Homo sapiens: one gene and its partner. The protein of the gene in region 1 interacts with the protein of each later gene in a pairwise test. Each region holds a gene or a part of one and is shown in the gene's direction. Other genes may lie near its edges.

Region 1 (7,867 bases):
TCATTTAACTTGTAAATGTTCGGGTGTTATCGGTGTATAAAAGATACAACACACACATAAAAAAATTAAAAAGACAAAAAACAAGAAAGAGACAAGATGAGGAGTTTATACCTAATTTTATCTTTGCATATATGTGACATACTAAAAAGGTTTTAAGTTAACAATGGAGGATCCTGAGTATCTTATTTGGGTATAAGAAATACTGCTCAGCCAGGCGTGGTGGCTCACGCCTGTAATCCCAGCAGTTTGGGAGGCAGACGCAGGCAGATCACCTGAGGTCAGGAGTTTGAGACCAGCCTGACCAATATGATGAAACCCCATCTCTACTAAAAATACAAAAATTAGCTGGGTGTGGTGGCATGTGCCTGTAATCCCAGCTACTCGGGAGGCTAAGACAGGAGAATCACTTGAACCCGGGAAGCAGAGGTTGCAGTGAGCCGAGATCACACCATTGCACTCCAGCCTGGGCAACAAGAGCAAAAAAACTCCGTCTCAAAAAGAAAAAAAAAAAAGGAATTCTGCTATGGGCCAGGAACGGTAGCTCATGCCTATAATCCCAGCACTTTGGGAGGCCAAAGTGGGCGGATCATCTGAGGTCAGGAGTTCACAACCAGCCTGGCCAACATGGTGAAACCCCGTCTCTACTAAAAATATTAAAATTAGCCAGGGATGGTGGTGTGCGCCTGTAATGCCAGCAACTGGGGAGGCTGAGGCAGGAGAATCACTTGAACCTGGGAGGTGGAGGCTGCAGTGAGCCGAGATAGCCCCACCGCACTCCAGCCTGGACAACAGAGCAAGACTCCATCTCAAAAACAAAAAACAAAAAAAAAAGGGAGCCTGTCTAGGGGCTAGGGGAGGGATAGCATTAGGAGAAATACTTAATGTAGGTGACGGGTTGATGGGTGCAGCAAATCACGATGGCACATGTATACCTATATAACAAAACTGCACGTTCTACACATGTACCCCAGAACTTACAGTATAATAAAAATAAATAAATAAATAAGAAATTCTGCTATGGGTGTTCGGAGCTGCTGAAAGAATGCAACAGGCAAGTGACAGCTTGTGCTTTAGGAAAATCACTCTGGCAGCAGTATGGAGGAGGGCTGGAATTAAAAGTACCCAAGTGATAGCAGCAGGAGGCAGACAAATCCTAGGCAGATGGGGGTGGGTCCCCAGTGAAACCTGACCTTCAAGCTGAAGACAGCTTAAAGCCTAGCTACATGTCCTGGATAAATCTATGGACCAGATCGAGAACCTCTCTTCCCATTTGGTGCACTTTCCTCTGATTGATCCCCACCCTTCACCTATTTTACATATACCCACCCTTCTCTAATTTGTTTTTTCACACTGTTGTGCCCACCTTTGAGTGGTGCCTTTGTTTTAGCCTATTTTGCATACTCACAAACCAATCAGCATGCACTTCCCCATTCTGAGCCCATAAAAGCCCCAGACCCAGCCATGCCAGAAGAGAGGCCAAACTACTTTGGGTGGGGGACCACCCTTGCGTCCCCTCTTGGCTGAGAATGAAAGGAGTTAGCCAGCTTGCTTTAGGCAGACAGTAAGGGAAGCGTCCCTGAAGAACCTACGACGTGCCCCAAAAGTGCTTACACCAGATGTTTTGTGCACATAAGGGAATTTGCACAGGGGGCTTGCCTAAACATGCCCACAATAGAAAATTCCATTCCCTAACACATGTGCAGTAAGGGAAATAACCAATATGGAGTAGCTCAGACTAAGGGCCCACGAGCACACTGGAAGGATGGGGTGGAGCCTCCAGAAATTTGCACCTTAAGCCCAGGTATTCAACTGTAAAGGGGGCAACCAGCAACCTGCTTTCAGGACCCCTTTCTTTACTGGGAGCTTTCCTTTCACTAAATAAATTCTACTCCACTCACTCTCCGGGGTCCACACACCTAATTCTTACTGATTGTGAGACAAAAACTCAGACCTAGCTGAGCTAAGAGCAAAAATCCTGCATCAAGAGCTGTTTTGTTGCTCAATAAAACTCTTCTCTGTCCTCCTCACCCTCCGATTGTTAGTGTAATCTCATTCTTGGACACAGGACAAGAGCTCAGGATGCCACCAAACATGGGTAGGAAGAAGAGAGTAACACGGTAGCTCTCTGCCCCACCAGCAGCGCCTGGTAGCCACCCTATGCAACAAGAAGCAGGGCGGGGGGCCAGGCCAGCCCCAGGGCCATGGGCGGGAGTGGGGTAACAGGACTGATAGGGCTGTTAACATGCCCCTGTTCGTCAGGCTGCAGAGGGCAGATCTAAAAGAGCTGTTAGCATGCTGTAACACCCACCTCTGGGGCTTCTGGGTTGCCTGACCCATTTGGTTACCACCACCTTCCCCTAGTCTGGACTCCAGAGCCCACTGTGGGAGTCACTTGTGACATGCCTGGTCCAGCCGCAAGCGGTGCACGGAGCCAGCTCCTGTGCCGGCACTTGGAGCAACCAGCTGGATACCACACAACTCTGCACTCACCAGCTCAGACACCCTCTCCTGCCAGGGGCTGAGCCCACAGTCAGGTGGCCACAGGATCCACACCTGCGTGCAAGCCAGGAGTGGCCCAGTGGGCCAGTTGTGCAGGGCACCTCCTGTGGCAAGCCCAGCCCGAGCAAGGCCTGGGTAGGTCTCCAGCTGCGGAGGTCTCCAGTGGCAAAGCAACGTCAAAAAAAAAAAATCCTGTGTCACAAGTAAGGCAGAAATTAAGAGACTACTTAATAATGTGATAAAAAATGGTGAGGCCCTAAATTACTTAGGTGAAATGAAGATGAGATGGATAAGAGTCTAAAGGACTTGGTTGTGGGTGAGGAACAGCAAGGCATCCAGGATGACTCTCCCTTGGTGACGACTTGGTGGTGAAATAAAGGCCACAAGAAAGAAGACAAACAAGTGGGGGCAAAGAGGAAAGAGAAATGAGAGAGTTGATGAATTCAATTCAGAAATGATTTGAATTTCATTTAAGCCAAAGAAAACCCAGTTATCTTTTCTGGGTTCCAGTTTTCTCAGTGACAGCTGCATTCATGAATTACCAAATTAACTATTGTAGCACTCTCTAAAAATATACAAAGCACTCTACCGTATGCTGTAAATAAGTCATGAAAAATCAGCAAAAGCTCGAGCCCTGAAGGAAATTCAGCAGGGTTAAAAAGAGATATGGCCAATGTTTACTAAACACTTAAACTGTGACCCAACACACTCACCCAGTACTGTAAGTACTCACTTAATGTCATCAACAGATTTTTGGAAACTGACTGTAAGCAAAATGACATATAACAAAACCATTTTTACCATAGGCCAATTGATATAAACAAAAGTTAAGTTCCTATAACATATTTCTGGTCACAAAAACATCACCAAACTCCTAAATACAAACCAAAACACTTCTAATATTAAACATTGAAATAAATGGGAGCTATACATACATTTAAGGAAGATTAATAAAAACAAGTAAGATAGTTATTTACCTAATTATTCCAGTTCAGGGTCGAGGGTGGCTGAAGCCTATCCCCTCAGCTCAGGGTGCAAGGTGGGAACCAACCCTTGGACACGACGACATTCCATCGCAGGGAGCACTCACACTCACACTCAGACAGGAAACACAGACAAGGCCAATTCATCCAGCCTGCACTGAGATGTGGGAGGCAGTACCCTGGGGTACCTGGTGAAAACCCATGCAGACGTGGGGAGAAGGGGCAAGATCCACACAAACAGTAGCCCCGGTAGGAAATTATTATTTTTTCTCATCAAGTTATACAAAATGACACTGAACGAAAAAATGCGATTCAAGGACCTGCTGTACTGTACTTTTTGCTCTGCCAGTCAGGTGCGATCGCTGGCTTTCTTTGAGCACCTATGAACAAGAGGTAGCATGCCCAAGTCCACGTGGGAGATACAGCGGCCCCACCCTTAAGGGACTTAGAGCATGGCGGTGGGACACATGTGGTGCAAGCTTGCTGAAAGTTTAGTGTGCTGGGAACTTTGAACATACAGGCAGGGCTAGTTAACAAAGTATATCTTTTACTTAGAGACATCGACGAGGAATATCTTAGGCCGTCCAATAAGAATGTAAGCATTTCATATTTTATTCCCTATAAAGAAAAAAGAATGGAGGCGAGAGGAAATGAAATGAAGCAATTATCGCAAAACCAGTCAGTGTCCCCGCAGGCCACCCAAGGACAAGCCTCCGGGAAAGAGTAACTCAATCCCAGTTTGGAGGGTGAAACTAAGAGTGAATGGGAAGCCAGCATCTTCCTAATACAAAAGCACAGTTTACCGTCCCCCTCAGCCAACATGCGGCTGAAGGGAAAGCCGCGGGGCGTACCTTTAGCACGGGACGCTGCTTTGGGGGGATCGCCCTCGACACAGCGCCCCTCCCGGCACCTGGCCAGAACCTCCCAGGGCGAAGGTCGGGGCCGAGAAGCTTGTGAGTACCGGGGCAGTGAGGGAGGGATCCCTAAGTGCAGGGCGCACACACGGGGCGGAGACCTGGAGGCGGCAGCACCGCGCCCCCAGGGCTCTGCCCAGCTAGCCACTCGCAGCACAGAGAAGCGCGCCCGCAAGACAGCGCAGCCTCCGCGGGCCGGAGGAGGCGGGGCCGCGGCAGGCAGAGGCAGGGCCGGGCAAGCCCTCGCTCCCCGCCGCCTGACGGGAATTGTAGTTCCTGGGAGAAGCCGGGCTGCCTCACGAGGCACTAGGAACTACATTTCCCGGTGAGAGAGCGGCTCCGGCCGGCCGCGCGGTACCGGAGCGTCGCACTGTCAGCGGCCAGAGAGCCTGGGGCAGATCGAAAAGGGAGTGCTTCTTCCCTTCTCTCCGCGCTCTGGCGGTGCAAGCGGCTCTGCTTTCCCTCGCCCCGCCGTCGGGTGCTCCCTGCCCGCCTCCCCGTGTCAGCTTTCCCTGGGCCCCGCCGGGAAAGTCTGGGCCTCGAAATTCGAAGGCAGCGGCGGCTGCCCAGCACGGGAGTGTGGGGCGCGCCACTCGGCGGCCCAGCCTACCCAGGGCCCGGCCCGCGCCTCCATGGGCCCGACCCGGAAGCCCAACGTGTGCAGCCGGCTGAGTCGCCGGGCGCTGGGCTGCTTCTCGCGCGACGCAGGCGTGGTGCAGAGGACCAACCTGGGCATCCTGCGGGCGCTGGTGTGCCAGGTGACCGCCAGCCGGCCGGGGCGGGACGGAGGGCCGCGGGCGCGCGGCGGCCGAGCCTCCTGCGGGGATGCGGTTTTAACGCGCTGGGGCCTCCCTTTATAGGGTCACATGTGATGGGGAGGAGGATACAAGCCCGGAATCTGGGATAGGTGGTAATAGGGCCACCAGCTGCTTTTAGTTTTACGCTTCTTATGTCTTACCTGGAAACAATTATTCTAAAAGTTGGTCACCTCATTAAGCCAAAACATGAGGGCAGAGTGGAGGAAGGATGCAAAAAGTTTTAAAATAATATAGGTGACATTATGTTGCTTTGAAAATTTAAAATCTAACTTAAAGCCTAAGAGTTCTTTCCTGAACGGAAATTCTTTATGTCTTTTAGGAAAGTACTAAATTTAAGAATGTCTGGACAACTCATTCCAGGTCACCTATAGCCTATGAGAGAGGAAGAATATATTTTGACAATTATCGGCGCTGTGTCAGCAGGTAACTTTTTATTGATAATTTTGCTGTAATTCACCTCACTGTTGATCTTAACTATAATTTGTATAGAACCACATGCCTACATTAGTGCCTAGTGAAATAGAATGAAAAAAATGGGTCCGAAATAAGACTAGGCAGTAAAAAATGCATGTAATTTTAAAATCTTGTTAAATCTAAAGTTGCAGGTGTCATTTTTGTAAATACCAACTTAAAGCAAAACTACAGTGCAGGCAAAACCACAGATTGTTCAGAGTACTGTTTAGTGTTTAGTCTACTTATACCACAGTCAAGAAATCCAGTTGCCAATCAAATAATTAGATGCTGCTTTGGAGAATTGATGGATTGTGTTTTGGAAGTACTTGCCTTTTTTTTTTTTTTTTAGAGAAATTTTTTCAAACAAAAGCCTAGTATTTAGAGATCCAAAATGTTTAACAGTCAGCCTCATCCACAACTGTCCAACATGAGGGGGGAAGGAAAGCCACAATGCATCCCCATATACTCATTACCCAGATTCAAAAACTATCAAGATTTGCCACATTTGCTTTATCTAACCCACTTTTCCTTTTGCATGACCTCTTTTAAAGCATATTCTAAACATACATCAGTTTGCATTTTTAAAAAAATGAGCTTTTTTTATAGGCTTTATTAGGATATAATTCACATACCATATATTTACCCATTTAAAGTGTACAGTTCAATAATATTTAATGCATTCACAGATACATGTAATCACTACCACAGTTAATTTTAGAGCATTTTCATCACTTCAAAACAGAACCATGTACCTTTAAGCAGTCACCTCAGTACCACCATTACCCTCAGCCCTAAGCAACCACTAGTCTGTTTTCTGTCTGTAGATTCACCTATTCTGTACTTTTCATATAAATGGAATCATATAATATATGGTCTTTTGTAACTGGCTTTTTCACTTTGCGTGTTTTCAAGGTTCATCCATGTTGTCACATGCATCAGAATTCCTTTATAAAGTTGAATAATATTGCATTGTATCAATTACCACATTTTACGTATCCGTTTATCAGTTGTTAGACATTGGTGTTTCTACCTTTTAGCTATTATAAATAATGCTGCTATAAACATTTCCATGTAAGTTTTTATGTGGGCATTTATTTTCACTTCTCCTAGATTATACCTAGGAATGGAATTGGTAGGTCATAAGATTATACTGTAACTGCGTTTAATAGTTAGAAGAACTGCCATACACTTTTCTAAAGTGGTAGTACCATTTTATGTTCCCATAAGCAGTATATGAGGGTTCTGATTTTTCCACATTCTTGTCAACACTTGATGTGTGACTCACAGCATCTCACTGTGGTTTTGATTCCATTTTCCTGATGACTAGTGATGTCAGGCATCTTTTCTTGTGCATATTAGCCATTTGTATGTTATTCTTTGGAGAAATGTTTGGTTAGATATTTTGCCCACTTGTAAATTTTTTTTTTTTTTTTTACAAAAATCCTTACATATTTTAGATACAAGTCCCTTATCAGATATATGATTTCAAATACTTTCTCCCATTGTGTAGATTGTCTTTTTACTTTCCTGATGTTATTGTTTGAAACAGAGAGGTTAATTTTTTTTTTTTTTTTTGAGACAGAGTTTTGCTCTTGTTGCCCAGGCTGGAGTGCAATGGCGTGATCTCGGCTCACTGCAGTCTCCACCTTCCGGGTTCAGGTGATTCTCCTGCCTCAGCCTCCCGAGTAGCTGGGACTACAGGCATGCGCCACCACGCCTGGCTAATTTTGTATTTTTGGTAGAGACCGGGTTTCTCCATGTTGGTCAGGCTGGTCTCGAACGCCCAGCTTCAGGTGATCCGGCCACCTCGGCCTCCCAAAGTGCTGGGATTACAGGCATGAGCCACCGCGTCCAGCCACAGAGAGGTTAATTTTGATGAAGTCCAATTTATCTAAATTTTTTTCATTACTCATGCTTTTGGTGCCATATCTAAGAATCCATTGCAAAATTTGAGGTCATTAAGATTTGCTCCTAGGTTTTTTTCTAAAGGGTTTATAGTTTTAGCTCATATTTAGGTGGTTGATCCACTTTGAGTTAATTTTAGTATAGGGTATAAGGTAGGTATCCAACTCCATTTTTTTTAACATGCAGCTATACATTTGTCCTAGCACCATTTATTAGAAAGACTTTTCTTTCTTCATTGCAAGGCCTTGCCACCCTTGTCAAAAATCAATTGACCATAGACACTTTTGGATTTATT
Region 2 (7,404 bases), on another chromosome or scaffold:
CAAGGCCTGGTTTTAATTACACGTTTGCCCATATATGTATCCTGAATAATGATAAGACTTGCATCGTGGATGACATAGTGCACGTCCTGGAAGAGCTAAAGAATGCTCGGGCCACCAATCGGACCAATTTTGCTATCACATACCCAATCACTCACTTAAAGGACGGGAGGGCTGTGTACAATGGGCACCAGCTTGGGGGCGTCACTGTGCACAGCAAAGACCGGGTGAAATCTGCAGAGGCCATCCAGCTCACCTACTACCTGCAGTCAATCAACAGTCTCAATGACATGGTGGCTGAGAGGTGGGAGTCCAGCTTCTGCGACACTGTCAGACTGTTTCAGAAATCCAACAGCAAAGTCAAAATGTACCCTTACACGTCCTCCTCACTGAGGGAAGATTTCCAGAAGACCAGCCGCGTATCAGAACGTTACCTGGTCACCAGCCTGATTCTGGTGGTTACCATGGCCATCCTGTGTTGCTCTATGCAGGACTGCGTCCGCAGCAAACCCTGGCTAGGCCTGCTCGGATTGGTGACCATAAGCCTGGCCACTCTCACTGCAGCCGGGATCATCAATCTTACTGGTGGGAAATATAATTCCACCTTCCTGGGAGTCCCTTTCGTCATGCTAGGTAATTACTACTCTTCTTTCTTCTGTTTCCGCCTGCTGGTGGTGTTGACTAGGTTCCTAAAAGGCCAGGAGTAGCCTTCTAACAACTTTGTTTCATTTAACAGTATCTTCATTTTGCCCAAAAGTCCTGGGACCCACTCTATAAAGTGCTGGTAATCAGCAAAAAACAACCTAATCTGGTAAATGTGCCAGAAGTTCAAAGTCCTGGGTTCTAGCGCTGACTCTCCATTGAGCAGCCATGTGGTGTCTAGCAGGTATTAATCTTCTCCTTGTCCCAGTGTCTTAGGTTGGGCTTCCCCATAAGCAGGGCCCTGAGAAAAAGATTTGGATACAAGTAGTGTATTTGGGAGGTGAGCCCAGGAAGCACCAGTATGGGAGTGAGGAAGTGGAAGTTGAAGGCACTTCAGTTGAAGGCAGGCAGTTGAAGGTATGTTAATGAGCCCAAGATATATCACATTCTGCCGGTTGCTGTGGGCACCTGTGGTTCAGCCCCACAGGGGACCTTTGGGAGACCTTGTGAAACACACCTCAGAGAGGTCCTCCCCCGGGGTGAGGAATTTGGGCTATTTTCCCACAGACCCTTTGTGATTCATTGAGGGCTGCTCCCCAGGCCAGTTAACTGCCAGCACTTCCCAGGGAGGTGCTCCTGCAGCACACTCCTGCAGCCAGAGAAATCCTTCAGGTGACTTTGTAGTTATAAGCCTTCAGCAAGCTCAAGAATGGGGAATGGGAGGGCATGTTGGGTTGGCACTGAGAGCGCCTGCTACTCTCAGTTTCCCCACCTTATGAATAGAGTGGATGTGAGCATCACACAAAAGGACATGATAAATGTATAAGAACTTTGAAAGTGACATGTGAGATACCAGTAGGAAGTAACTTTTTTTCCTATTCTTACTATGAACTCAGGAGAATATTTTAAAGCGATGCTGATGGTGACAGCGTGCTTCCAGTGTGTCCACTCAGGGGGCTGCTGGAACTCCCTGATAGAGATTAATGGTCAAAACAAAGCCATAGTGGCCATAACATCGGTTGCCCTGTCCATCTGTTATCGAAAATGGCATGCCCAGCAAGCCTGATGGCAGGGTTCTTGCGGGCCAAGGATTCAAGAGGTTCACTTTCCCCCTTTTCTATGGTAGCTTCTCATCAATTCCTTTAACAAAATTAAAATGTCATTTGGAATCAGATACTCACATGACAAATGAAGTGGCATTTTTTGGTTAACTAAGAAATAACCACTGTTGAGGTCATTAGCGTGCCTTATGCCCTGTTTTAGAGTAGTGGAAGAGAATTTCCTCAGGAAATCTCCGCTGTGTTGTGAGCACACGATAAGCGGGGCTGGTGGGGCTGCAAAGCCACAGAATTACATTCTGCCCTCGATTCTCTGTGGCCCGAGGAATTGAAACCTAGTCAATAAACATATACTAGTAGCTTTTGTGAAGAGCTGGGCACTGTAAGGAGACCGAGCAGCCTGATAATTTGATAATGTACTTGTCACTGCTGAAAACAACAGAGAAGAAGGCTGCCGTACCTCCTCCTGAATTCGGTCTATTAAGAAAGCAGCATAACCTGCCGCTTTAAAATCACCCCAAGACCGTGTGGGTTGACTGTGGAATACAGAGTGGTTCCTTGAAGAGTGAGTAGGACTGAGTATTAGTAGCTTCCACAGAGGCTTGTATCAAGGTTGAAATTAAGATGTTTTGCTCATGATTAGTCACAATCTTGAATGTTTTGGGGGTTACGGGAAGGGTTTTCGTTTCGTTTCATTTTTTAGCTTTTCATTTTCTTGCTGCTTTTGTGGGAGGAAGAGAAATAGGAATAAGAAAAGAGTGGGGAACTGAAGGGAGATCGTAAGGTTCTCAAGGTGAGGCAAAAGGACGCCGGAGCTAGAAAAAGGACAATCAGTGCTGATTTTATGACATTCCAGGTTGTTACCAGTGAGCTCAAAGCATGTTAGAATATTTAAAACTTGTGAAAAGTTAATTTACTAAGTAAAATAAAATTATAATATTTAAAGTTTCTTCAAATTAATTTTAAGTAAACTAAAATAGCAGTATTCAAAACTTCGTTTCACTAAAAAATGAAATTGTAATATTCAAAACTTCTTAAAGTTAGTTTTATAAAGTAAACTGCAATATTTTAAATTTCTTAAAACTTACTTTTTTGTACTTTTTAAAGAGGTTTTAAATATTGTAAGGCAAAGTCAACACAAAACAGACCATGGCAGATAGTATTGGTGCAGGGAAGGATGTAAGAGATGGTAGGATGGAAAGATGCTGTTAGCAGGGAAATGTCTTTAAAAAACAAATCCAGAAATAGTAATGCCACAGATCCACAAAGACTGAGTATCACTGAACTTTACATCACAGTTCAATTCAGAAAAAATCTAGCATTTGCAGCGAAAGAGACCACGCACCACAGGTGCCCAATAAGCCCTTGTTTGCAATTTCTGAGGAATGTTACGTGCATTGATTTGATGGCAGTTTTCCCTGCTGACAATCAGTGTGCAACCTTTCTGTACATTCTCAGCCCAAAGAGTTCTCAAATTACTTAGTCATAACATGAAAGGAAGCTACATGTTTTAATAGCTAAGGCCCATTTACAATAAACACTTTGCACGATGTAATGGGTGCTTAATATGCTCATAAAGCTAACAGTGCCTGGATTTAGGATGGTCGCCCTCCTGTATTTCTCAGATAAACTCTTCATTTTTAAGAGTTTATAAAATGAAATATAAGCAAGAACAGCTTCATAAATGTTGCATTCAAGGCCATCGTTTAATTCTGGGGTTTTTGGATGACCAGTCCTAAAATGCCAGTAAATATTTCAAATGACCAAGAAGAAATGCAGTGCTAAGAGTTTTGGCACTACAGTAAACTGTCCAGTGTTTAAATTTTCCTGTGTATAACTTAAAATGGCTATGCTTAACCTAAGCAGATTTAAGCAAAACTTGATTTAGTATGTTATATAAATACAATATCAAATCAAAAAGTATATAGCCTCATTTAAAAGGTAAAGTATCTTAGAAAAAGTCTCAAACATGGACATTTCCTTGGCTATCAATAGGTCTATACTGTGATAAACATTATAGATTTAAAATTCAACAAACTGAACATTGTCAGTGTGATTCTGGTCACATAGGCCAAATCCAGCCAAATGCCAAAATGACACTAGATTTAGAATGGAAAATTTTAAGATCACATGTGTCAAGCAGTATTAACCTGACAAAATTCCAGAAGAGGAAAGAATTTGGATAAACTCTTAAGAGTTCACCATAATGGGATGTGACTGTGTGTTTCTAGCCAAGATGATATGTGACAGTTCTGGCAATAAGAATATATCCTACACAGATGAATCATTTTGGCAATGATGTAAGCATAGATACATCATGATTTAGAATGTTTTTAATCAGTGTTGTGCATACTAGACAATCCCACTTCTGCCAAAACCTCTGTCCAGATGAGTCATATCAGTTTATTTAGAGCTGAAATCCTAAAAGGTCTACAGCGTTATAAATGTTCATCGACATTTTTTAGTTACTCTAATTTGGAGAAGAGTTTATTTGGTCTATACCCTTATCGTGCATAAAATAATAACCCTTTCCAAATATATTGATATCAAGTAGTGAGTTACTTGAATTGCTACTTGTGAATATATGATGCTAATTATTTTAATCTGTGATGGAATTTCCTTTAAAGGATGAAGATTTACACCATTATTCTCCAGTTGGGTATGATTTTTAAAATTAGCATAGGTTTTCTGTGTGCAAGCTCTCCTTACAGGCTTAATGTTTCAACAGCTTTGCTGATCAGATACAAATCAGGAAAGGGATAGAATGTTAGATGATGTAGAAGGGAACCAAAAGAAAGTTTTCTCCCTTCTGCATCTGGAAGGTTTGTTGCTTCATGTACATCCTGTACAGCTAAAAAGGAGAATTGAAGTCGTAGTGAAAGAGTTCGGATATTAGTTTCTACATGCAATCTAGTTTATAAAGGTTGCTTTGCATTTATCAAGATACAAGAGCCCCAGAGATTTATGAGATAAAAAATACTCTTTAAGCCCTTTTTCAAATGTTTGGGATTTTGAGGTCAGATGTCAGATCCAGGGTGTTCTCTTCCTTTTGAATTATCCAACCAGGCCACTCAGATTCAAGGACGTGAAAGGAAGAAAGAATTAGTGGATTATTTCTAATTTGCGGATTAGTGCTAGGAAAAGAATAATAGCAGGGAAGTTTGGCTTCTTTTAGCTGTGCATTTTAACATTATTCATATGTAGCAGAAACCAGAAGATTGGGTTCCATTCTCCAAGAATTTGCTCTCATATGATGCCACTTGAAATATAATGCAGTATATGGAGCTCATAAAAAGGGAAGGAAAAAAAATTCTCATGCAAAACATTTAGTTCCAACTGAAACATTGAAATTCTTATTTTTTCTCTAAACTTAAGCAAACCTGAAAGAATTTGCTTTCCTGATGAGTATTCTGATACATTTCAAAAGTCATGAGAAAATGAGGGAAAAATCAGTCAGATAATAATAAAATTTAAACCATATGAAATTGCAAATATCCAACCATTTTTGGCCTACAAACTTGGTACCATTATCTGGTCATTTTTGAGCTACAAAAATGGTAATTTTGTGTGGTTCAGCCTAACACATTATTGTAGAAATCCATTATTTGCAACAATATGACAATTTTGCCTGATGGAGTAGAAGTATATTAGAATGCTATGGAAAGACTTTGCTTAGATATAAATCAGTAATAGGTTCAGCATGTTCTAGAGAAAACAACTGATTTATGAGGGTTTTGTTGTTCACATTTTTGTGTACATCTATTTTTTTAAAAGAGATCATTTATTTTACAGTATTTCCAAAGTTTGTCTCTCGAATATCGTTTTTTGTAATGGTCCATGGTCATTATGGGACTAATTTACAAGGAGATTATGTAATTTAGGCTTGTAATTCGTTCTTGCCCTTTTATTCTTATGCTCCACCAATCATATTAGGGTGAGAGTAGGTGGAAATAAATAGGTTTAGGGGAATGGAACAAAACAAGTTTTATTGTTCTATTTTTAACCATAAAGTAAGACAGGAACAGGACTTGGGGGCACAAGTCCAGGAAAGCAGAACTCAGTCAGAGGAATACAAAGGGGCTTTGTCTTTGACCCAGGATTCCCAGATATCCCCTGGGTGGTCTGTCTACCCGGTCGTGCCCAGGGAATGAGGGAGTGACAGACCCTGTAAAGGTTGGGCAGCAAGAGGCAACATCAGGACACTGAACTAAACATAGACCCTGGGGAGAAATACCTAGTATCTACATTTGGACTAAACTCTCAGAAAGTCACAGCTGGGCAGTCTTGACCAGATGGATATACAGAAGCTCACAACCGAAACAGGTTCACAGTTATTGTCAAGGAAACCCTGCATTTCACCAAGGCTACTTTATTACTCAAGAACCAAAATATAGACAGATGGAGCCCAACAGAGGGATTCTATAGCCCCTTCTCTACACTGATTGGTGTAGCAACACTAACATTATTTTGCCTCATCAGTAAAATAAATTTCACATCAGCCTACTATTCATCTTGTGTGTATGTGTGTCTTTATAGCCTATGTGCATAATATATATTATATATCACATTAGCTGTATTATATATCATATGCAATATGATATGTAGTAAGCTCATGTTATGTATTTATATGTATACAATGTGTTTATAACATATATTATGTAATATATATTGCTTGAATATTTAAATAGAAGCTATTCTCTGTGTATACTATCTGGTATATAGGAGTCCAACATTTTGTATGTAAATATATAAAATATATTTGAATAGGATATGCCATATATACATATGTTTATATATCACATTTGTATTCTATACGAAAAGAAATTAAGCAATGACCATAGCATATATTATGGGCCACATTTATACTTATACACACTGGTCTTATATAATGTACATACACACAATATCTAAATACTTTAAACAAGGAAGAGCTATAAGCAAATTCATTTCTAGGGCTCTCTTTTACAGCTATCTAGTGAAGAAAAATCATTCCTAAGACTAAAACCCAATGCTCTGGTTAGAATTTTCAAAATGTGACAAGTCTCTAGTACAAAGAATAAGATGTGTGTGTTCCCCCTGATGTGAGCATCTGTCTTTACTTAAACAGAGTACACCTTTATTCTTACTCTTAACTCTGAGACAAAACAGGCTGCAATAAACCAAACAATTCAGCTTGTAAAGTAAATGTTTATAACTGGCAAAGTGTAAATGTAACCCAATTAATAAACTTCTCCCTGAAAATAGATGTTACTCAACCCAGACATATATACACTTTAAATTTCTTCTCAAAAACACAAAAATCATGAATTTATGTGGATGACATTGAAAAACAGGCATCTTATAAACATGAGCTACTTAGTGAAGCTTTTCTAAGAATAAAATAGGCTTTAAGCAGATTTTGCTTATGGATTATAGTCTCTGAATTTTTGAGACGAATGTAGTAATTTTATTTCCATATATGAAATTTGGCACTGCCCAGGCATGCTATAAACAGCTTCATTGACTCATGATATTAAATGTTTTCACACTGAAACTGAAAGATCATCCATCAATCAGCAAGCCATCCCATTTCCTCCTTCTTAGCCATTCCTTACTTTGAGGAACTCAGGATGAGGAAATCCTGCTAGTGTGGAGAGGTTTAAAATGTGAGTAGCACCCAGCGGCATCTCTCAGCTGCTGTGTTGTGGCTATGTATACTGGGACAGGC

What was found.
Region 2: the proteins of DCAF17 (region 1) and PTCHD1 interact in a two-hybrid assay, tested with the Homo sapiens proteins (one study listed by BioGRID and IntAct).

The regions. Positions count from the first base shown.
Region 1 is NC_000002.12:171,429,550-171,437,416, forward strand, and holds the start of DCAF17 (DDB1- and CUL4-associated factor 17), read left to right. Parts: upstream 1-4,676; 5' UTR 4,677-5,028; coding exon 5,029-5,154; exon of another isoform or gene 5,155-5,223; intron 5,224-5,226; exon of another isoform or gene 5,227-5,448; intron 5,449-5,533; coding exon 5,534-5,637; intron 5,638-7,867. Other genes in the region: METTL8 (tRNA N(3)-cytidine methyltransferase METTL8, mitochondrial isoform 2 precursor), read right to left, coding at 5,125-5,132. UniProt on the Homo sapiens protein: May function as a substrate receptor for CUL4-DDB1 E3 ubiquitin-protein ligase complex.
Region 2 is NC_000023.11:23,379,622-23,387,025, forward strand, and holds part of PTCHD1 (patched domain-containing protein 1), read left to right. Parts: coding exon 1-630; intron 631-7,404. UniProt on the Homo sapiens protein: Required for the development and function of the thalamic reticular nucleus (TRN), a part of the thalamus that is critical for thalamocortical transmission, generation of sleep rhythms, sensorimotor processing and attention. Can bind cholesterol in vitro.